Regions from separate parts of the Homo sapiens genome. Here all the other regions are linked to region 3. Evidence: fine-mapped expression QTL. A gene starts in region 3. Each other region holds a variant in brackets. All regions are shown on one strand. Distances are from middle to middle.

Region 1 (6,187 bases), 170 kb before region 3:
ATGGGGTTTAAAATTAAATGGATTAGTTCTACATTTTTATGGCTATGTCACTTGAGCAAATTAAAGTCTCTGAGCCTCAATTTCAGTATCTGTCAAATGGAGGTAACTGTTCACAATTTTTAGAAGGTTTATATTAGGTAAGTTTGTAAGACAGTTAGAATTTCTAATTCATAAATACTCTAAAATGCTAGGTTTTATTTTTCTTAAACATTGTTGAATAAGGAAATCTATATTAACCTTAGATTTTTTAAAGCATGCATATAAAGAACAAAGACAGACAGAAGTTTTGAGTTACAAATAAATTCAGGAAAGCTGAAATTCAAAGACCTGATGTTTATAAGGACACAAGGACAAACAAAAGATCTTTCAAGGTTTTTACATTTACAAGAAGAAAACAAAAAAGTGCTTGAGGTTAACAAGCTACGTTTTTTATCCCTTCAAAAGCATAGCATCTCAAGAGTGGAACAAACACTTGACAGAAGTGGTTGAAGCACCATGCAGGTAAAGTGGTTGGGGAGAAACATTCTGCCCTGAATAAATGGCTTTGTGGCCAGGCTTTGGTTGTCTAAGTTCCAAAGTGAGAAAACTTACCAATGAGATTGAAAACTTGATATTGAATTAATCAAAGAGAATAAAGGACCAACAGGAGAGGCACAAGAAAGTTGAGAAGAAAAAGGTAGCTCTCATTTTCGAAAGACGAATATTGATAACTATAGACTGGAACATAACCTTTAGCATTCAAAAGATTCACAACAGGTTACCCTAGCTCCTCAATGGGACATCAGTCTTAGAAATGCTGTTGCATTAAATATATACATCAATTTTTAGAAGCAATCTGGTTTCAGAAATAAGACAGTGTGTGCAGGCAAGAGAAATGTCTTAGGCTAAACACATATGAGTTGACTAGAACAAGACTGGAAACTATGAATAAACATGATCATTATGCTGAAGTCCAGGTGTGTTCATTCAAGCCTTTAATTATATCCTTTTGGACTAGGTTTTAGAAACAGGGTGGGTGAAATGTGTTTTTGTAAATTTAGTGGGTTGTTATCTTACTTGAGCTAAGTGAGAAGTGTGTGTGTTACTCAAGAATTGTGTTCTTAAAGCATTAGAACTTTGACCCAAGTCTTACTATAAATTTTAGCAATGGCTAGAATGATCAGAAGAGACTATTTTCAAATTACAGATAAATAAAATCATAATGATTAGGCATATGGATTTTGAAATTGTTACACTTGGAAGAGAGTTCTGGCTTCGCCATTTATCAGATGTGTAGCTTTAGTCAAGTGATTTAAACTATTCTAAACCTCAACTTCCTCATCTATAAAACTATAATTTGGAAAAGGCCATCTACCCATTGTATGGATGATGTGGGATAACTAACATAAATGCACCTAGCATATAGTATATGCCCATCAGGATGGAGATAGTTACAATGCTGGTGTCCCAAATAAAATTGCCTCTCACAACCAGAGAGCATTTCAATAAAGTTAAATAGCTTACAGAAATGGGTAAATCAAATCAAACAAGATTAAAATGAATCGCAATATGCCGTTTGAGCAAAAGTGTAAGAGAACAAGTAATGTTTTTATACAGGAATAGAATAAAAAAGGCAGATAATTAGAGGCAGATATGTAAGTGTTTGAACCATTTAAGTAACTATGTTCAATAGGAATCTATTAAAAAACATAAATCAATGAAAACATGTAACAAAATACCTAGCATTTTCTTTGACTACATCTGTGAAAATATGGAAAGTAATATAAAGCAGAGACCAGCTTCACTGTGCTCTGTACTGTCTAACAACACTGAAAATCTTACATTATGAATGGAAGGCAGACAAATGGAAAAATATTCAAAGGAGAGTAATCAAAGCGTGGGGAAGCATGCCATCTGAATAATGGCTGGAAGAGAAGTGGTAGTTGTTTCCAGTTTGGGGCTATTATGATAAAACAGCTGCTGTGACATTTTATATAAATCATTTTCATAGACATATGTTTCCATTTATCTAAGGTAAATATCTAGAAGTAGAATTGTCCTATGGTAGGTGTACATTTAACTTCATTAGAAAATGCCAATTTTCCAGAGTGGTTGTACTATTTTACACTACTTTTTAATTGTTTATATATTTATTTCAATCTCATTCCTTGATGGAATTATGTCAACCTTTCCAGATTTCTGTCTTAGAAAAAAATTGGAAGACTTAACCACTCTGCACTCATATGCAGTGACCAAAAACAAGCAGAATTGAATATCCATTACCCTTTTAGATGGTACAGGAACAGTGCAATTTCCCTCACACTTCATTCATCACTCCTGACTCACTCACTCATTTGGTACCAACTGATACGTATTAGCATGAGCTTGCATACCTTCATGTAATGGGAGACTGAAACAGCCCCAGCCATTTAACTTGCTGACAGTAGGCCATTGTTGATGCTTGCATTTGAGTAAGAACATAAACTTCAAGGTGTGTGTTTGTATTTATACTTTGTCATTGTTGTTGCTTTTTGTAAGTGCCATCTTGGAGATATTTGTGTTTTTCCTTTTGACTGCCTCCTCCTTCAGTTGCACCCAGAGGGTCGGAACAGAAGCAGCAGCAGGAA[T/C]GTTGCTAGGCAAAAAGGTTCTGATGACAATGATGGAGATTGCAAATTATGATTAGTGCAAACCCAGGATGTGTCATCAGCTTAGGATTCTGTTATTTACTTAATTTGAGCCTAATGATATGAAACATCGTTGTAATGTTGAAGTTTTCTTATCCTTTTCAAGGTGCTTCAATTCCCTGAGGAAAGAGGCAAGCAGATGGAATATTTCAGGCTGCAGACATAGAAGAACGAGATAGAAATATGCTCTCTGTCCTTGATGTGAAGATTCTGTCACTTTTAATTCTCCATCTTATTTACTTTTCTACTACATAAGAACTGGGGCTTGTTTTAGCAGCATTGATTAAGTTGTCATTGATTTTCAAGATAGGAAATAGAACTTTCAAATTTCCCACATGAATTTTAAATAAGTCAGATATTAACAACAAGATAAAACATTTACCATGGCAATGACAGAATAGTCAAGTATCATTCAAAACCTTTCAAGGCTCACAAAGAGCATATGGATTCTAGATGTCAATACATACATGACTAGGTATTAATTTTATTATTTAATCTAAAGAAATGCTTCAATAAGCTTCTAGCCCCAAAAATAGAGAGTTCATTTATTTTTATACATGTTTGTGTTCACTCGAAATTTGCATAAAGGTATATTTTCTACCAGTCAATAGAAATCAGTCTTATTAACAGTTAAGATTTATTGAGCCCAGTATTCTGCTAAACCTTTAGAGCACTATGTGAATTAATCCTCACAAAAACCTTAGAGCAGAGTTTGCCCAACTTGGAACTATTGACATTTTGGGCTGGATAATTCTTTCAGGGTAGGGATTGTCCTGGGTATTGTAAGATATTAAGCACAATTTCTGGCCTCTACTTATTAGAAACCAGTAACGTCTCTCATCCCAAATGGTGAAAATGAGACAGAGTGCGGTGGCTCACACCTGTAATCCCAGCACTTTGGGAGGCTGAGGCAGGAAGATCACTTGAGCCCAGGAGCTGGAGACCAGCCTGGGCAAAATGACAAAAGCCCATCTCTACAAGAAATATAAGAATTAGCTGGGTGTGATGGTGCACACCTGTAGTCCCAGTTACTTAGGAGGCTGAGGTGGGAGGATCTCTTGAGCCTGGGAGGCAGAGGTTGCAGTGAGCCGAGATTGCACACTTGCATTGCAGACTGGGCAACAGGGCAAGACTCTGTCTCAAAAAAAAAAAATAAATAAATAAAAAAAATTGAAAATGTCTTCAGACATTGCAAATGTGCCCTGGGGGAAAAACTGCACTCTGGCTGACAACCATTGCTTTAAGACAAATATTATTTCTGCCACATTACAGAACTTACCTGGAGACACACAGCCAGCAAGATGAGCATCTGGAGCAGAGAGGTAAGCTTCTTTGGATTGAAAGCCCAGGATCTTTGCATTAATTGATAATGTCTCCAGTTGATTTCAAAGATACATGAATAGAATTGTGTCTAGTTACATGTGAGGGTTTTCTTAGTATTTACTTTAATGTACATGTGAATTGAGCATTTACTATTTGGAAAATACTACACCAGGGCAAAAAGTGATGACAAACTTAACTTACTCATGGCCACTGAAGAACTTAAACCTTGTCATTGGTAAATAGCGAATTCACAACTGAGGTTTTGAATTTCATGTACTGTATTCAAATGCCTTTAAAGATGGAAATATACATTCACATTTCTTAAACATTATGCTTTGGTCTTGTTTTTTAACAATGTTTAAAAAACATCATGTTTTTTAAACATTTCTGTTCATTTACGTTTTGGCATCATTGCACAAATATACAAATATAAAATTATTACCTATGGTAGAATTCTCTTGTGAGAGAAAGTGTATCCATTATAGTACAATAATTGGCAAATCTGGCCCACTACCTGTTTTAGTAAATAATGTTTCATTGGGTCATAGCTATGCTCATTTGTGTATGTGTTGTCTCTGGCTACTTTTATGCTATGATGACAGAGTTCAATAGTTGTGGCAGAGATCATATAGTTCACAGAGCCTGAAACTTTTACTATTTGGCCTTACAGAGGAAGTTTGCTAACCCTGACACAGTATTTCAAGGTGGTCAGATTTTTGTAGCTGTGTAATCAAAGGTATTCTACTTGTCTGTGTTTATTCTTTGTATATTTTTAAATGTATATTCATCTGGAATACATCTGTGAAGCACAAGAAATAACATTTAGTCTTTTCTCCTATTAAATTGCCTTAATAAAGAATAATTGATTAAAATGATCTGAAGCCTCATTCTGTGCTAGTCAATTTGCCAGGAGTTCTACATGCATTACACTACTTAATTGTTACAACAACACTGTGAGGTAGTCAGTCAATTCTCACTTTTTTATGAGGTCACTGAGACTTATGAAGGCTATGGAACTTCCTCAAGGTCATGCAGAATCAGAATGCAGACATGTTTGATTGCAAAGCTCAAGTCTATTTAACCACTATATTACTCTCTGTGCACAGAACAAAATGTCAATAAGAAATTTTACTTGGTTTTACCTATGTTTTAAAGATCTAAGCAGATAATTTTTTCAAAATTTATCCAGATTTTCTGAATCTTCTTATAAAGGAAAAATATCTTATGCCTGCATAAATGAAAGGAGACCAAGATTATTGACTTATTCATTTAGCAAATACATAGTGAGCCCCTATCCTCCACTAGGCATTGTGCTAAATACTAAGGATATAGTAATGATAAGATACATAATCCTTTACCTCATCAGGCTCTGCTCCTAGTGGGTAGACAAAAGAAAAGCAGAAAAAGATGACAACACAACGGGCTGAAATGACCATAATACCGGTATGTGCCAGGTACTGAGAGAGGACGAAGGCTTCACGAGCGTGTTTGAAACCAAGACTTGATAGGTGAATAGCGATCAGCCCTGATGGAGATCTGGACTCTGGCCATGACGTGTTTGGAACTGCCTTGGGATATAGAAATGTTTTTTACAATTCCTGACACTGCAAGCTTGTGTTTTAGTTGGGGGATGCAAGCTAGAATGTGTAAAATATCCATTAATAATACAAGACATATTATGAGTAACTGGTAAATCGTGTGGAACAGCATAAAAGTACAATAGCAATTGAGAGTTGAAGCGAATGAACAGAGTGTGGTGGGTAGTCAGCGGGAAGGAGGGATGGAAGTTGAATGTTTAAAATAAGCAGAATCTGGCTAAATGAGGAAGAGGGGGTGTTGAGGGGACTGAGTATTTTCGGTGACCAACTGAAACAGGGACAGTGTCTACAAGCTCTTGACTCCTAAAGAGACTGGCCTCGATAAAATCAATGTTAAAAATAGCGGGAGAGAAAGGTCTATTGGAAGCTTTGGGCAAAAACGTAGATAGTTTTGAGAAGAGTGGAAGAAATAAGAATACATTTATCTGGGCTGGGTGCGGTGGCTCACGCCTGTAATCTCAGCACTTTGGGGGGCCGATGTTGTTGGATCACTTGAGGTCAGGAGTTAAGAGACCAACCCCACCAACATGGAGAAACCCCATCTCTACTAAAAATACAAAAATTAGCTGGGTATAGTGGCTCGCGCTTGTAGTCCCAGCTACT
Region 2 (6,187 bases), 57 kb before region 3:
AAGGATTTGGATAGGAGTATCGTCAGTAAATTGAACATATGCATAGATGATAAAAAGTTACAAGAGATATCCAATATGCAGAGCGAAAGAATTAACTTTGAAAAATCCCAACAAGACTGAAAAACCAAACCCCCCAAAACCCAGTGATTCCAATAATAAAGAACTTAATGGAAATGTATGTAGTCTGAAAAAAACACACATGTAGAAGGTTAAGATGGTGAAGAGCAGGCTTTGGGATCAGGCAGATTTAGATTTGCGCTCTATATTCTACTTACCTTCTTACATGAGTGATCTCTGGCATTTTACCTAATTTTCCTGAGCTCAACTTCCTCTTTTGTATAATAGGAAAATTGCTGTAACTACTTCTTAGAATTAGTGCTGTAACTACTTCTTAGAATAATGAATATGAAATTCTTAGCATAGATGGTAGAATATAGTTAAATATTAAATAAGTATTATTTATTATTTATTTTTATATGTCACACCAACTTTGCTAAATGGGGGGAACAAATACATCACATAAACTTCATAAAACAATCTATACATCTGAGAACCACATTATAAATGAAATATTAACAAACTGAATCTTATCCAGAGGTACTGAAAAAAAAAAAATAATTGGAAGATTTTTAAAAAGTCATAAGGAGGTGTTTAAGCAGGAAAAGAAACTCTTGAAGAATATGACTGAGTACTTCAAAATTCTAAGCCTTGCTTTATAAAGAAAGAGACCACAATGTACAATCTGTAATTACAAATAGAAGTTATGTGGAAATAGATTTCTGCTCAAAACAAGAAAGAACGTACAGACAGTCCAGTCCCCAACTTAGGATGGCTTGACTTAGGACTTTTCAACTTCATGATGATGCGAAAGTGAAACCGTACTTCAAATTTTGAATTCTGATCTTTTTCCCAAGCTAGTAATATGTGGTACAATACTCTCTTGCAATGCTGGGGAGTGGCAGTAAGCCACAGCTGTCAGTCAGCCCTGTGATCAGGAGGGTAAGCAGCTAGTATTCTATAGTGTATTCTGTTGCCGGCATTTTTTGGATATTTTGTGTTGTGTTTTCACATCCCATCATGTCTACTAAATGCCCAATTTTGACTTAGGATATTTTCAACTTACAATAGGTTTATCAGGACGTAGCTCTGTTGTAAGTTGAGAAGCTTCTATATTAACCGGTAGGTCTGCCTAGGAGAATTTCAGAGGTGGTTTAAGTTTTGTATAGGAGGAGTAATGTTCAAATAGAGGTGGGAGGTCACTTGCTGGGGTTATTAGAGAGATGATGGAAACAACAGATCAGCAGTTGAAAGAGAGGAAACCCTGTAACTGAAGGGTTCGACTTCAGTGGCTAATTTAACTGTGATCTGCATTATTCATTCCTGTATCTTAGTTGTGTCAAAGGAATGAAAACATTACCTCTTGTCCCCTTCATTACTAAATTTGAGTAAATTGTTAAAATATTATACAAATCCTCTACACTAATGTCAAACTTATTGTTCTTCATAATTCTCCACTAACAATACAGAGAGAGATCTATTTAATTGGAGAGATCTAATCTATTTTGGTTATGAATGGGTCTGTCTCTTTTTGGACTTCATAGCAAGAAGAGGGTAACATAATTTTTAAATAGAGAGGGATTTTATATATCATTGTCCATACCAGAATACTTTTGAGATGGACTTAGGCAATAATCAGACAGGCTACAGGACAGCAGGTATAAACTACAACATTCTGAGCAGACTGGAATAAAGGATCACTCTAAATATAACGGACGAAAATCATGAATGTTCAGTTTTTAAAATCTAGGTATTGAGAATGCTTTGTGGGAAAGAGTGTTGAGAGACAGAACCACACGGAAAACAAACCTCACCAATAACTGGCCATAATAGACACTGAACTTTCAGGTGGGATCTGTTTGTCCCTAAATACATCAGCGTCATTTTCGGTCATTTTCTTTTGTTTATTGACTATTGGTCACATTTCAATGCCACAACAAAAGATAACCCTTTAAGCAATTAATAAGGTTTAATGTAAATAGAAATATGCTGAAGTGTCAAGTAAGAATAAAATATGAAATTTTTTTATTTATTCATTTTTCCACATTTCTATTTTTTTCTTATTCCTTTTGAAAGAAGTAACTTAATTGACTTTACAGTTTATTTCTTTCTCTAGCACATAAAAAAAACTTTCAGGAAGGAGAAACTTCCTTCCTTTATAATACATTTCCAATGACTTTGTGAATTACACACCTTTCTATAACACAGTTTTGGGATGACTGAAGCTTTGGAGAAGCTTCATTATCTAAACACATTTGGACTGATGGGAGGCTAGATATATAATTTGCTCAGATGATGGATTGCCAATGCTGAATAATGTGGAAAATTTCAATACAGTAAATCATTCTGAATGTGCAAAACTGGGCAGAGAGCCAGGGGGATACAACAGATTAATGGGTTTTTCTGTCACTGCTGAAGATATGGGTTCTAATCTTGATGCCCGGAGGCGGGAAATTTGAGCTAACGATGGACTTTTTAGACATTGAGAAGCAGATCTCAAAAGAATTCAGAGAAGATATGAGCTTTAATAAAAGAAGAGTAGGCTGTTTGAAAACTTACATTTGAGGGGAAAAAAGATATGAGGAAAAAAAGTAGTAAATATTATGATATCCCTTTATCCAGCCAACATGCAAATTACTAATCTTAGTCCAATTAAAAACATGACAATAATAGAAGAGGCTTTCATATAGTTATGAATTTTTGAGTCATCCTATACTAAGAATGAATTGGGGAACCAAAGTCAAACAGTTAAAAAGGCAATTGGGCAATTCTTCTAATCACAGGTTTTATTTGGTTTTCTAGTATTAAGTCCATAAGTTATCTGTGTTTAAAATCAGAAATAGCTTAAGACATATTTTCTATGCAATTTGAGGATCTTTTACGGTTTAACAGAAGAAAACATTTTCTGTGATTTATCAATAAAAATTTATTATGTTGGGAAATCTAGTGAAATTGCCTATATTTAACCATTTTTTTTTACTTTCAAATATGGCAATTTTATATGGTTAAATCTAATGGATTTGTTCACATAAGGACAAGAGAAAACTCATATCGAGCATTGTGTTATTCACATTAAACGTATTTTCTCATTTCATTTTCACTGCAATACAGTATGGAAATTTGGAAAAAGAACATTCAAATAACTTTCTCAAGTCACATCGGTAAAGAGAGGCATAAGTAATATCAAAGGTCTTTTTGACCCATTAAGTAAGGCCTCCATGTATGATTATGAAGGTTGTTCACTGTGCAAGGGTGATAGCCAAGAAGGGAAGTGAGGGTTTAAATTTAGCCTGTGTTCTACCCAACTAGCGGGGAGCCCTGGGGTCATTGTATTTTCCAAAAAAGAGTGAATGAATATATAACCTGTCCCACGTGCATTTCTTACAGTGTTATATTGACAGTCCTTCACTGAAAGGTGGAGTCTGTTTTTTCTCCCCTTCGAGCTGGGTAGAACTTTACAACTGCCTTCAGCAATAAAATGAAGCAGAAGTGACACTGTATGACATCTGAAGTTACGCAATCAAAGGAAGTATAACTTTACCCTAGTGTCTTCCCTCTGAACAAGTGAATTGGGGGCCCTGAGCCAATTTGTTCTTTATCATTAAATTCATTTTA[C/T]TTACCAAGGTAGATTGCGATTTACTTGTTATATTTCATATTTTATTTTCAGGCGGGAAGAGGTAAAGGTGTTGATGGTGGAAATCAATCTGGAACATGATAAAAAATGATCTTTCTGAGAGATGTTAACATGTGAAAAAAATCCAATTGAAACTCGATGTAATACGAAGTGTTTCTCAGAAAAATAAAATCAAACTGAAGCTGTGGTTTAGTAACTAAAGTTCTTTTTGTCACTAGAAATGACCTATGTTTGTATAAAATATTGATATAACAGTAATACCACTTTCTTAAGTGATAACATTGATAAAAGACATGATGAACTCAAAAATGTGTCTCTGGCAAACACAGTCAATATTCCCCAAAGGGCTCTACATAAATTAAACATGTAGGAAAGCATATCACAAGGTAAAATGTGTAGGGATTTCATCAGTCATCCACTTCTTTGACTTATTTTAAGCCCTAGGTACAGTGACCAATGAATATTTTCATGGCTGTTATAGATCCATGAGAGTGTTTAAGATCCAAAGTTATATTCCGTTTCAGAAAAATAGACTCAATCCCTATTCCTTTATCAAGTTAGGCTATATACTTTTATAATGTATCATATCATTGCGATAGAACAGCAGCTACTCTTTATTTAAAGAAAGATCTGTACATTTTCCATTTATTTTACTCTTTTAAACTTAAAATTATTTAAACATACTTTCTCCTCTCTTTTATTGGCCAACATTAAACCACATTGCTAATCTAATTTTCACTTGAGATGATACAGAGCTCTCCAAACCCATTCTCTGTTTAGATGACATGCAAATCAGATTAATGTGCTTGTGTTACAGACTTAGAGATAAGATTGTTGCTTCTGGGGCTTTAGCAGTAAAAATGCCTCTAACGTTTACTATTTTCTTTTTCCTGCCTTGGCAGTATATCTCTGCAGGAATGTCTTTTGGCAGATTAGTTTTCTAAGGCAAAGATCTACTCAGGGAGGGAGGAAAATACAGCAAAATCATTTTAGGAAATCAGAGAAAATATTTGAAGGTAAGGCTTTAATTATAACATAAGGGACTTAGAATAAACACTCAGGCATACTTGAAGGGATCTACAAGAAATTTTAAGTCTTTTTGTTTTAAATCTTTCAGTAGATGTATCTGTCTATAACATTTGAAACATACTTTTTATTTAAAGCAAGAGTGTGCACAAAATGACTTTTCTGGGTGTGAGTCCAATCGTTGAGTGTTTCCAACCCTGTTTTTTGTCTTTTTTTTTTTTTCTTTTGCCAGCCGAGGCACCAAAGATGATATTTTCTCATAATTACAGCCCAGTTCAAATATGTGTGCTCAGACAAGAAAAAGGCAAGCCACACTTTCAGGCATGTGAACTCCCAGGCCAGTTAGCTAATGGCTTAACTTTAGTGTGTGAATAAATTAGGGGGATGGAAATCTTCCTCTCCCCTGTGGGTCTCAGTTCCTAAGTGAAGCTTCCTGGGTATGATGGCTTTTTAAAGGCTTAAAAAAAATTAGATGTAAGCCAACTACTCCAGCTAGGTGGTCTAATTTTTTGTTTGCTTGTTTGTTTTTGAGATGGAGGCTGGAGTGCAATGGCACAATCTTGGCTCACTGAAACCTCCGCCTCCCAGGTTCAAGCGATTCTCCCACCTCAGCCTCTGGAGTAGCTGGTATTACAGACACCCATCATCCTGCCCAGCTAATTTTTTTTTTTTTTTTCTTTGAGACAGGGTAGCTGGGATTACAGGCACCTATCATTCATTCTGCCCAGCTAATATATATTTTTTTTTTCTGAGACATGTTGGCTAGGCTGGTCTTAAACTCCTGACCTCAGGTGATCTGCCAACCTCGGCCTCTCAAAGTGCTGGGATTACAGGCATGAGCCACCGCCCATGGCCTTTGTCTAATATTTAACCAGAGGAATAGTCCCCCAACCAAAAGCAGGAGAGAAAACTGGCTTTGGACTTGCTAGCAGGTAGTATCTGTCCTCAATGATGTACCAACATAAAGCATTTTTCATAAGTGGTTTTGGATGCCCTTTCATGGAATTCACACCCTCAGATTGAGTTGAGATTAAAATTTAAAGAACAAGTAAGCAAAATAGACGTAAGAATCCATAGCAGTTCTTAAGAAGCAATGTGGTGTGTACTGGGTTAGACACTTTGTATTCATCTTCTTTTTGTCACTAATCCTGGAGGTTATAGATTATTATTTACATATCAGAGATGAGGAAACTGAGAATCAGAGAAGTTGAAAAAGTCTTCATTGATAAACTGGAATTATATCTATGATATGATTCCAAGGACCTCACATTTTTAGCCATGAGAGACTATTATAATACGTTCATTATAACTACTGAAATCACTACCTTCTGGATATTGTTTATGTTGGTTTATTTTACTTGCTTCACTGAGCAGATTACATAGTTTAATACAATTGTTATGATAGATTTGTTTTGATTCATCACAATGGACTGAAAGAATGGACATCTGTTTGCTACTCTATTTTATAAT
Region 3 (6,187 bases):
AATCAGCATTTTACAATTATGATAATTCTTAACTTACTTGAACAGGCTATTGTATTTTACTTGTAGATAACTTAAAATACAACAATTATTTCAGTCCAAAAAATTCTTCCTAAGGGTCAGTGTTGACTGGTGCCTACAGGCAGCATGAGGAAGCTGTTTCTTGCCAGTTCTATGTCACTGAGATCAGCAAGAAGCTTTGACTTCCAGGATCCACACCACAGTCTAAGAAGATATTTAAGTGAAGTAACTGAGCCAGAAAACTAGCTGGAGGTCTCTCATTACTTATTCTTGCTTGTTATTTCAGAATTTTTAGTTGTAGCTATTTCTATTCATGCTTCAATATTAATATCATCATGAAAAAGGACTGGAGATTACAGTCTTTTTTTTACATTGTTGAGACTTTCAAAGGAACTGTTCGTGATTCCAGTGAAAGACTCACGTAATACCCCCAGAAATATAAAAATAAAATTCCTGTTGAAAATCAAGAAGAAACATTTCAGTAGACCAATACCACATCAATGAAAACAAAATCTATTTCAACAAATTATAAATAATTGATGCAGTATGCTTGCAGAGGACAGAGTTTATATCCCCTCAGATAGCAAGGAAATGAAATATTTTGTTTTTAACTTTTGTTACATCATCCAAAGCCTCAAAACTAACTTAACCAAATTCCACCTTAGCTAATACGTTCTGCATCACATGAAAACTCCCCCATGTCAAAAAGAGTATTACAATAACTATATTATCTAATCTGACATTACTAAAGATCCAGATAAGTTTACAACTTCTGATCTAGTTCAAACATAAAGTGACATTGAAAGAAAAGTTTTCCAAACTTTCTCTAGTAGAAAAGTTGAAATTCTAAAGAAATTGAGAGGAGGGACATATTCTTGCCAAAATATATCAGGTAATTGTTGAAAAAATACTTAAAAGTGTTATTAATGAGATGACTACTCCAATAATTTTTAAAAGGTTCTGTCTAAAACAGTTTACAACTCCAAGACCCTGAAAATCATAGTAATAATGAATTTACTCTTATAAGACATTTGTAAAGTTCTAACAGTTGGAAAAACTAGAAAGTTTGGAGAAACAAACATAATACTGAATGTTATAAATCATTAAACAATGCATATTGCTTTAATGTGTATAAATATAAAGTTAGTGCTTTTGTAGTATATCCAAGAAGAAAATCTAGAATATGTCTCTTTTTGGAGAAATGAGATGACTGGTCTGAACGATTTTTAGTAAGTAATTTTAAAACTAATGTTGAAAAGTTTCAAAACAAAGCACATATACTATTGTGTTGAGTATACGCATTCCTTAGGAAGAAAGGAAAACATATAAATCATATGAATAAAGAATATGAATATTAATAAACTTTGAAATAGTTTGTCAGTGACTTTTCTAACTTTATAACTTCAATAAATATTTCATGCAAGATACAATTTCAGTAATTGTATATTCAAATTTATTAACTAAGTAAAAAGAACATTTATTTTTGCACCTCATATGTGGCCACTGGGATTTCATTCATGTTGGATAAATACTATTCTTGATACCTTGTTTCCTTATCAGTCATAAAAGAAAGAGTATAGAGTTTATGTTTACTGAAAATATTCTTCCTTTTACAGACTGTAAAACTTCTCTTTTCTATTTTCATTCCCTTTCATCTTCTGAGTAATTTCGCATATTGACATATATTTCACATCAACATTTTCTTGCTTTTTTTTGGTGTACCCTAGGAGAGACTCTCAAATTAATTTTTTACATTCATGCCAGTTACTAACTTTCAAAAACTCCTAAAAAAAAGTCACTGTAGTAATAATTCATTCCTCCTTTAATTTTCACACCCTCAGTCAAATGAATATTTTACATACATTCCCCAAGGACTTAAACCTTTTGTAAGTGAAATTGGAAATGAAATAAGTCATGCACAAGAACAAGAATCACAAGTCTTCCAATGAATTATGTATTTTTAAATGCAAATGGTTCTATTTTCACAATACTTCACTGTTAAACATGTGCTCTGCTAGGAGCTGCTTTAATCTTATGCTACATATTTTATTGTATGTCAAAGTTAAAGCCATTAGCTATCCAAGGGTCAATCTAATGATGCCCAATTATCAGCAATTAAATAGTTCAGGTGTAGGAATTCAAATAGGAGCAGCTCTTATATAAAATACGGTTAATAGAAAGAACACCTCAGACACACATGGATAGAAAAATATATATATTAGATCGGGTAAATTTAAGCAAAAATGTCAAGGAAAGAAGACTTTATTATTAAATCTTCCTAGCTTTTAGCTTTGATCACAGACAACAATGTAATTTTACTTCCAAGTCATTGGGACCCTGAATGGGACAGCAGAATCAATCCAAGTTACAAGTGACTAATACTATGAGATGCTCTTATCAAAACAGAGCAGAGGAAAATTGTACAAGCCTCTTGATAATATTACTCCTATATCTCTATAGACATTCAACACATTATTAATATGTTTCTGTGATTACAGTTTTCCCAGCTATATCAACAACTCCGAGTGACCTCACCTGAAAGCTAATTTTATTTTGTAAAAACTGACAAGTGAAGATGGAGACCAGTTATAAAAACAAAGGTAATTTTGTAATTTTTATGTAAAGCAAACTCGAGACTCAATGATATCATACAGCATGTGAATTATCACCATCCTTGCATTTTCTCTTAGTCTTACAAATATTTCACATGTTCATGCTACCTATTGATGATATATGTATGTACACAAGATAACACCTTCTCAGTAAAGGCTAGAACAGCACATCTTTCTGACTGAGTAGATTACACCACATGGTAATGATGTGATCAAACTCCACAAGTTATGTGCCTCATCATTAGTTTCCCCAAACTATGAGGTTTAAAAAAAAAAAAAAAGCCACTAAACATATACACAGCACAGCACTGTAGCAAGAGAATAATTTTGGCTTATCCAAATGATAGTGAATAATTCAGTACATTTAGAAAAAAAAAATATATATATATATTATGAAATGCATCCCAGATCCCAGTTTAAGTTCAAGTTCCCAACTGTGAACTCAGAGCTCATGGAAATACAATTATGTAGATTCCTCTTAGCAAAGATTTAGTAGTGGTTCCTTCATTTAACAGCAGTTTTTTCTTAGTGAAATTATTTACTTGAAGAGAGGCTAATATGAAGGGAAAAAGGCAGTTCAACATAGACCAGGCACAATATAAAAAAAGTATTCATAGTTTAAAGTGTGTTAAAGTGTAATGATGTCACAAATAGACAAATCTTAACTGCGTCTTACCTGTAGTAGCAGAGTGTCTTGATACTGTTGAGTGTCGAAAAGATGCAAGTCTCTAAATTAGAAAACAAGGGGCTGTTTGCGCTCCCAGTTTCAGCACAGCCAGTGTTCTATGCGTAAGTAATAAATTGCCTCGTCAAAGTCGTCCCAGCCACGGTGTTCATAGGCAATAGTTAGAATCACTGCCCGAAGTCTTGCTTGATGCTGCTCCCACAGCCTCTGCCTTTGCACAGAGACCTAATGTAGGAGTGAGCCGGAGAACATCCTCTTCGCCCCCCTCTCTCCCCCTCCCTTTTGCGTGGTCTTTCTTCCTCTGTAGCTCACTCTCTCTCACGAATGGAGAGTTATCCTTTGGTTCATTCGGCAGTCAAAGAGGACAGGCTGGCAGGCAACAGTGCAGCTGCCCCCATGCTGAGGCACATGAATGTGTTGTGAATAAAGACAAAGCCCTGAACCAGTGCAGCACGTTACTCCCTGGAAAAGCGCTGCAATGATACTCTGCACTGCAACTCCTCAGGCAGGCAGGCAGGCAGGCAGGCAGGCAGAGCGGTGGACTGAATTTCCCTCGCTTTCCCTCCTAGGAACGTACATTATAAAGTTTGGCTCAGGACCTTGCTTCTCCTCTAAGGGACCACATTTTCTGTGGGTAAAAAATGTTTTATTAAATGTCTGGACACCCTGAACAAAACTATTTTAGATAGTTTTCTACTCTGCTAAACTTGGAGAACCTACCTCATTCCCAAGCTGTCGCCAAAGTAACTGAATTTTCTAACTTTGGAAGATAAAGATCAGGTATGTTAGGCCCCAGAAAAATGTTTTCATGGTAGGGGAAGATGAATTTCTCTAGTCTCAGTATTCCTGAGGGACTGAGTAGGGAGGGTTGGGGAGAGGTGAGCAAACAAACAAAAAGCATCCATATCTCACAGGTGCCAAAAATAGAAACTGAGATAAACTAAAGTGAAACTGATGAACGAGTCTGAAAGAAGGTAAGTGCAAAGAATTGAACAGAGTGAATTAATGGTACTCACTGGTTTCCTATAGCTATCATTCAGTTTTGATAACAAAAAATCATCCTACTTATATACATCATGTTTTGCTGTGGCTTTTGCAAGTATTAATAGACAAATAAACGTAGGCTAATATATACCACATATTTAAGAAAGATTTAGCAGATAATGGCCTACAGGTATTTGCATAAAGAGAGTCAGAAGTTGTTTTCATGCTAACAAAACTACAGGTGGTTACTAAACTATGGATACAGAACTTTGAGATGCACACTCTCAAATACTGGTCCTAATCAATGTATACTGTAACGATGAGACTTTTAAAGCACAATCATATAATGTAGGCAACAGTATTTGGTAAAATAATTAAGTATAAGTTAGGATGAGACTTTTCCATGAATGCCAAAACACCTGAAGTAAATAGTTGCTAGACTAAAATATAACTTTATTTCTATCCCTGATGAAAATGAAGTCTGCAGCTAAGTGTTCCAGGGCTAGATATGAGCTCCATGATATCAGGAACTAGGCTCCTTGTTGCTCCACCATTAGCAACACACTCCAAGATAGTATCTCAAGCTTTAGCCACTAAATTGGTATTCAAACTTCAGGAGCTGAGAAGAATGAGGACAATATGTTCCCTATTTAAGGACATACCTTGGAAGTTGAACATGACATGTTTTTGACTAGAAATTAACCATATGGCCAGAGCTTACTGCAAATGAGACTGGAAGACTGGAAAATAGAGTGTCTATGTGAAATGGCCATGTATATGGCTAAAAACCTGAAGAGCCTTTTACTTAAAAAGAAGAAAACAAGGGAATATGGGGGAAATAATAGTGTCTGCCATAGTAAGATTGATGGATATCGTAAGTGATATCACAGCATCCGTTTCACCTTTATTCCATTGCGAAGTACCGTGTAATTTAGGGAAATGATTTCATGTTGGGCAGCAGACCCTGTTGAGTCTAAGCCTATCATGGTAACAGCATCATACTTGGAAGTAATTGGTTAATAAACCCAGACCTGAACCAATTCGGGCATGATGTTCACTTGCTGATAGTCACTGGCTCAAGAACAGCATAGTTTCTTACACTGGCCCAGTGAAACGGAATGGAGGAAAAATTGTTCAGTGATGAATCAATGAGTTAGGGTCCAGTTTTAAGATGAATATGACAAATTGGAGACAAAGAAAGAAACTAGATATTTGAAGAAATCAATGTAGGTTTGGATTAAACAACTTTAGAGCCAACAGGAACTCAACTTCTAGTTATGCGCACCAATGTGTTACATCACTTTTTAAGTCACTTTGATATGCTTTTCTGTTAGTAACCAAAACATTCTTAATGTACATTAAAAAACACTGTTCTTTAGCATTTAGTATATAATTCCTTGTCCACAGTCCTAATATCACGTGTGAAACTCCACGGTTTGGCGATACGTATTTTTCTAAATTAAGAATAGGAAATATTAAGGGCATATTAAATTTCTACATATTCCAGATTTTCAAACTTTCAATTTATTTATTTAAAATGGTTCTAACAATTTAATTTTCATTGACATTCCATTGGGATTATTAGAAAGCCAATTTGTTGTTGAGCCAGGGACATATCACAAGCTCAACAGATTTAAATAGCTTCTTGTTTTTGTTACACTTATTACCTCTCAGGATCTAACTAGAATAATAAGCTATGCTGTATAGCTTTCTCTCACTTCAGTCTGTGATAATAAGTGTTGTATTTTAATAGCTAACATTTGCCCATGGGTGTGTTTACCCTATGCCCTATCCTCCTTTAAGTTTTTATAATGTATGAACTCATGTGATCTTCACAACAGCTTTATGAGGAGTATATTATTATTATAACCTCAATTCACTTATGAAT
Region 4 (6,187 bases), 25 kb after region 3:
CATTTGGTTTTCAGTACTAATGAAATATAATATTTCTGTGCTTTTTTCTTTTCACTCAATCAACATTTTACTTTTTTATTCTTTTGACTGAGTCTCACTCTGTTGCCAGGCTGGAGTGCAGTGGCATGATCTTGGCTCACTGCAACCTCCACCTCCTGGATTTAAGCGACTCTCCTGCCTCAGCCTCCTGAGTACCCAGGACGACAGGCACATGCCACCACACCCAGCTAATTTTTGTACTTTTAGTAGAGACAGGGTTTCACCATGTTGGCCAGGATGGTCTCGATCTCTTGACATTGTGATCTGCCAACCTCGATCTCCCAAAGTACTGGGATTACAGGTGTGAGCCACTGCGCCCGGCCTACTTTTTTATTTTTTAAACTTTTATTATGAAAAAATAAAATAATAAAATTTTTAAATTATGCTTTTTAAAGTTTTATTTTATTTTTTATTGACAAATAATTGTATATATTGATGTGCTGTGTGCATACATGTATACATTTTGGGATGACCAAATACGGCTACTTAGCATATCCATCATCCCAAATATTTATAACTTATTTGTGGTGAGAACATTTAAAATCTTTTCTTTTAGTTATCTTGGAGTATACATTATTATTAAGTATAGAGTTAAATTTTTTAATTAAAAATTTTTAGTGATTATACTTTCAAAACCTGTGAAAAGTTAACAGTGCAGCCCACTTAACTTTGTAAGTGCAGAAAAATAGGCCCTTATTTGCCGCAGTGGATTAAAAAATAGTGTCTCATATCCTTAGTATACAGAGCTTGTTTCCTAAGAAGAGATAGTATATATATGTGTATACACACACACACACACACACACACACACACACACACACACACACATACATACATACGAGAATATCCAAAATAAGACTTTTTAGGAAGGTGGGGGAATTTGTGCTGGAAACCTTGACTAAGAAGAGTGTCAGGAATTTTTGATCGAGGTCAGGTCTCATGCACTGGGCACCCAGCAGCCCTGCAAAGTACTAGTGCTTTGAAAGACAATGCCCGAGTTTGCAACTGTGAAGCAAGACACCTATGATCATGCTTCCCAAGGATGCAACACAACTTTGGTACAGGCAAGAAACAACCAGCAAGGACACTGGCACACAGTTGAAAATTGCGACTTAGACCAGGACAGACCAGTCTGCTGAAGTAATAGCATCAGGCATCCCAAAAGTAAGAGGTACTATTCAGCAAATAACCCTGTTTCTCCTTCTCCCTGGTATGCAGAATAAAAATGACAGCTTTTGGAATAAATATAGTCTGAAGTTTTCAGCCAGTTTGGTAATGCAATGCAGGGACAAGGCTCATATAAGTAGGTCAGATAAAATTTTGAATTGTTGTTAAAAATATACTATAGGTGGAACTATATTTGTGCCTTGACAGTACAGAACAGATATTGTAATAAATATCCATATTGGATATCTCTGTGTCTGTGTATGTATGTATGGACAGTCATATAATTGTGATAATCAAATCTCTTCCTAAAACTGTAGGACAGAGTCTAATTTTTATTTCATGCAGATTGTCCCCTCCCTTCAGTGATGACATCCTTACTCCTCTGAAATGAACCATACCACCCATTCAGTCATTATTATGTAATTGTGTGCCATCGTGTATCACTTTGGATATGTGTCCCATTCCCCAGTTAGATTACACATTCAAAGTCAAGGTTGAGATTTATACATACTTTTCAAGTCCACAGCATCAAACCTAGAAACCCGTATAGGAGATAGAGCAACAGCGTGGCAGACTGGTGAGGCAAGATAATATGGTGGCCATGTGGTCAAATGGTGGCTCCCTCTCTGACTTGAACAAATGATTTAATCTTCCATTTCTGGCCAGGTGCTGTGGCTCACGCCTGTAATCCCAGCATTTTGGGAGGCTGAGGTGGGTAGATCCCTTGAGTCCAGGAGTTCAAGACCAGCCTGAGCAACATGGCAAAACCCTGTCTCTACATAAAATACAATATTAGCCAGGCGTGGTGGCATGTGCCTGTGGTCCCAGTGACTCAGGAGGCTGAGGTGGGAGAATCACTTGAGCCTGGGAAGCGAAAACGTTGAAGTGAGCTGAGATGGTGCCACTATACTGCAGCCTGGATGACAGAGCAAGACCCTGTCTCAAAAACAAATTATATCTTAAATAGAAATAATTATATCTACCTCACATGGGTGTTAAAAGGAATAAACATGAAGTCACTTAATACTTGGCAGGTAGGGCTCTATAAAATTAAACATCTAAGGTAGTGATAAAATAGTTATGTGTTAATGATACTTATAGTCGTCATTTATCAAAAAATTCACAATTGCTGTATCATTCTTGTCAACTTAAAGACAATGTAACTAGAAAAGGGAATGGTTTAGAAAGAGATATCTGTTCTGAAAATTCCCATCCACAAATTCTCTGACTTCTCTCCTTTTCCGACCATCTCTCCAGTCTCAACACCATCATTCCTAACTCTGACCACTGCTTTGGACTCCTTTCTCTTTCTGCCTCTCAGCACAGCCTACCCTAGATATTTTCCATTTGCACCTCCAGATCTATCATCTACCCTTGTATCGTGCTTTAGGCTTCTGGAGGCTAACTGCCATAATGGCATTCACAGGCTTGGGCTTTTGCTGGGTTTGGCAAATGTGAATTCACCTGCAGGAGATGGGACCTTAGGGGATTTAGTCCCCTTTTGCTCCCTTAATGGGCAGTGGTTGGACAATGATGACTTCCCTATCTTACAGTCACAGCTTCTATTACCACACCTTTGGCAACTATAGTTTTTTCCTAGGTTCCTGTGAGTTCTTTCCTTGCCCCTTTAAGCTGCTGCTAGGCCTTGGAGCTTTCAACAACCTGTGTTGGCTTTCTTTAACCCTGACCCCACCTTTGAAAAAGTGATTATGAAGTGCCTTTTGTCCCCTTTGACTGTACCATCTATTTCCTGCTAGACCCTGACTGATACACCTGCCACTCCTCCACACCAATTATATCTGTTTATCACAAGACAGTGTGAAAAATTTGAATTCTGTCCTGTAACTCTCTTCTCTGAATATAGTTTACAGGGTCCTATCTCGCTGAACTTTCCTTTCTCATCATGCTGTGTACCACATCTTTCAAATATTCACAAGCTTGAAGATGTCTGCTTTTGGGTGTGTGCAGATACCCTACCCTCTGCCAGAAACATGTGCCTTTACAACTCACACTAGGGA[C/A]TCAGTATTTGAAAAGTTGCTTAATGAACATTTTATAATTCATATCCTCATAGTTTATTTTTTACTGCTAGATTTTAGGGAATTGTAATGAACTGGTCATTAAAACCTCTTTTCAGCATTTTAATCTATTCTATACTAAGTATTTTTCTGTTAATAATGATACTAGAGCCAAAATCATATTTTCCTTCTTAAAATAGTATCATTTTTAAGCTTTTAACAGTAATACATACCTGAGATGGTACTGATGGCATCTAATCATTATATAATATGAGTTTTGAAGGGACAATTTTGGTAGCTAAATAATCTTGTTCATAATGTTTTTAGCACTAATTTGGAATCATGGAGCTTTTATTATGGAGCTGGCATAAATTTATCTGTAAATCGTGTAAATGTTTAGATGGTCCATACATATATAAAAATAGCTTTGTTATGCTTTAAATATTGCTCCTTCGGCTCATAGAGTATATTCAGAGATATCTACCAGTGGGTTTTTGTGCTGCTGTAGCATCTTCCAAAAAAAAAAAAATTAGCCCAGTAGGGCCTTGGGCTATGAATGTTTTAGTAACCTTCTGTTAATAGAAAATAGTAAGAGGTATTTCTTGGGTCTTATCTCTGACATTTTTTGTCATTCCCTTGTTTCAATATTTATGATATTTTCAAACTTTCTGTCATGGCCAAAACACTAATATTCTTCAGTCGATAATAAAATTTACTTGGCCTTCATCCCCATTATTGTTTGTTTGTTTGGTTGTGATACTTAAAATGAGAAGTCATAAACTTCTTTTGGTTTTCCTAGAATATTTACCTTCAATTTTCTTGAGTAATCTGTAGTTATTTATAAAATATTCCTTTTTAAAAATAAGCTTTCTGTTTTCCATTCAAGTATAAGATATTATTTTCCATTAAAAAATTTAAAACAGAAGGCAGAAGGTAGAAAAAAAACACTTGTCATCTCACAAGCAGGTAATATTTCAGTGCAACATCCTGTCTGTCTTTTTCTCTGTGCATACTTTATATAACATTGAGATAATATGATAGAGCCAAAATCATATTTTCTTCTTAAAATAATATCATTTTTAAGCTTTTAACAGTAATACATGCCTAAGATGGTACTGACGGCATCTAATGATTATATAATATAATTTGAGTTTTGAAGGGACAATTTTGGTAGCTAAATAATCTTATTCATAATGTTTTTATTCACTAATTTGGAATCATGGAGATTTTATTATGGAGCTGGCATTTATTTTTGTACTGCATTTAAATAGTGGATAGTCAAAACAAATTAATAATATGAAGGTGAAGGATCATTACTGACTTAAAACAAAAATATAATCTCTGAGAAGACAAAAAAAATGCTGTAACTTTCCAATAAACTTTATCTTGTATTGCAAAGTATTCTATTATTCAACTTTTACTAAATAAAGTCTGCAAACTTAACAATTTTTGTGTGAAAAGCACATAAAATTTCTGCCCTCAGGAAGCATGCACTAGAGAGGATAAAGAAACATTAAATTGTCACACAAGAATGCACCTTGTATTAGTCCATTCTCACACTGCCATAAAGACATACCAGAGACTGGTTAATTTATAAAGAAAAGAGGTTTAATCAGCTCACAGTTCTGTGGGCTGTACAGGCTTCTGCTTCTGGGGAGGCTTCAGGAAACTTACAATCATGGCGGAAGGTGACGGGAAAGCAAGCACATATTCACATGGCTGGCAGGAGAGAGGGAGGGAGGGAGGGAGCGAACAAGCAAGAGATAGAGTGCGTGCACACATGCGAAGTGGGAGGTGTTACATACTTTCAAACAATAAATCTCCTGAGAACTGTATCAGGAGATAGCACTAGGGGGATGGTGCTAAACCATTAGAAACCACCCCCATGACCGAATCACCTCCCACCAGGCCTCACCTCCAACAATGGGAATCACAATTCGATATGAGATTTGGGTGGGGACACAGAGCCGAACCATATCACACTTCATACAGAATGAGAATGAGAGACAGAATATTTTAAGAGGAGACACTTAAAAATTAAATATATTTGAATTTTACTCACAGTTTTTCCACTTTTAAGCATGATAAGATGGCCTGTAGTCTATCAGTGCTTCCGTTTCCATCTGCGTAATATGGGAAAGAAAATAAAATCTGTATATCAAGGTCATTGTCAGGTCTAAATGACTTAGCATATCTAGCACTATACCCTTTACATTGGAAATTCTTAGTGAATAGTAACTATTATTCATTTCCATTATAGCCCTAATGCCAGGAGAAATATTAGAGAGAATATTTAGGAGACTGTTATTATGGTAATAGTAGACATTAATGAGAGGGTGAATTAGCATAATGGTTAGGCATACAGAAAGGAAAAGTAAATATTGACCAAAATTCCACAGAAGCATATACAGGAATTAATTATATAAGAAATGAAGATGTGAGAGGAATCCAAAATGACCTGAGGTTTTGACCTTTATGAATGGGAGAATACAAAGCTTGTAGCCCATCATAGCAAACTGAGTAAGAATTTGTAGGTATGGAGCCCCAGCATCAGCATTTTTAAAAAGGCCTTCAGATTATTCCAACGCATCACAAGAATTAAGAACTATGTTTAAAATTATTTACGTGCATATGCTAGTGTACCCACAAATGCTTTAAAATTAATTTAAATGCAGTTTTATGTAAAACAGTTCTAACTTTATGGAAATGTAACATATATAACAGGCAAATAAATGCTATAAAATAGGTTGTCAGGCTTCCACTTTCTTAAATTCTAGGTACTACTGGATGTCATGTTTGGGAAAGAGTCCCAATGAGCATTTTTGTTGACAAAGGCAAGGCTCCCTCGACATGGCACTAAAGGAAGCGCTTCAGAAAGGAGACACATTGTTTGCATAAAAATACAATAATTTGAAATCCTTGAGAGACAGGTTTTCTGAATAATAAGGGGAGCCTGAAGACTAGAA

Direction of the effects. Positions count from the first base shown, and alleles are read on the strand shown. Sizes are in standard deviations (SD) of each study's normalised expression. Not every link is listed here.
For the expression in testis of the gene that starts at base 3,798 in region 3, T is the low allele of the variant in region 1 and C is the other (moderate effect, 0.74 SD a copy in GTEx).
For the expression in caudate of the gene that starts at base 3,798 in region 3, allele C in region 2 goes with a higher level than allele T (moderate effect, 0.50 SD a copy in GTEx).

What was found. PIP is the estimated chance that this variant, and not a neighbour inherited with it, causes the effect.
Region 1: its variant is fine-mapped to the expression of LINC03000 in testis (GTEx, PIP above 0.99).
Region 2: its variant is fine-mapped to the expression of LINC03000 in caudate (GTEx, PIP above 0.99).
Region 4: its variant is fine-mapped to the expression of LINC03000 in prefrontal cortex (ROSMAP, PIP 0.95).

The regions. Positions count from the first base shown.
Region 1 is chr5:164,466,654-164,472,840 of GRCh38, reverse strand. All of the region lies in intron 2 of LINC03000 (long intergenic non-protein coding RNA 3000), which reads right to left. It overlaps LINC02143 (long intergenic non-protein coding RNA 2143), which reads left to right and starts at 5,439. Exons shown (of 4, transcript NR_105064.1): 1 at 5,439-5,494. It overlaps LOC102546299 (a long non-coding RNA gene), which reads right to left and starts at 2,562. Exons shown (of 4, transcript NR_105065.1): 1 at 2,373-2,562. The variant T/C (reference allele first, on the strand shown) is at 2,607.
Region 2 is chr5:164,351,715-164,357,901 of GRCh38, reverse strand. It overlaps LINC03000 (long intergenic non-protein coding RNA 3000), which reads right to left. Exons shown (of 5, transcript XR_001742489.2): 2 at 3,678-3,761. Among named protein-coding and RNA genes, the nearest start is that of LINC03000, 58 kb to the right of the region's middle. The variant C/T (reference allele first, on the strand shown) is at 3,673.
Region 3 is chr5:164,294,316-164,300,502 of GRCh38, reverse strand. LINC03000 (long intergenic non-protein coding RNA 3000) reads right to left here and starts at 3,798. Exons shown (of 5, transcript XR_001742489.2): 1 at 3,307-3,798.
Region 4 is chr5:164,268,988-164,275,174 of GRCh38, reverse strand. No RefSeq gene overlaps it. Among named protein-coding and RNA genes, the nearest start is that of LINC03000, 25 kb to the left of the region's middle. The variant C/A (reference allele first, on the strand shown) is at 3,225.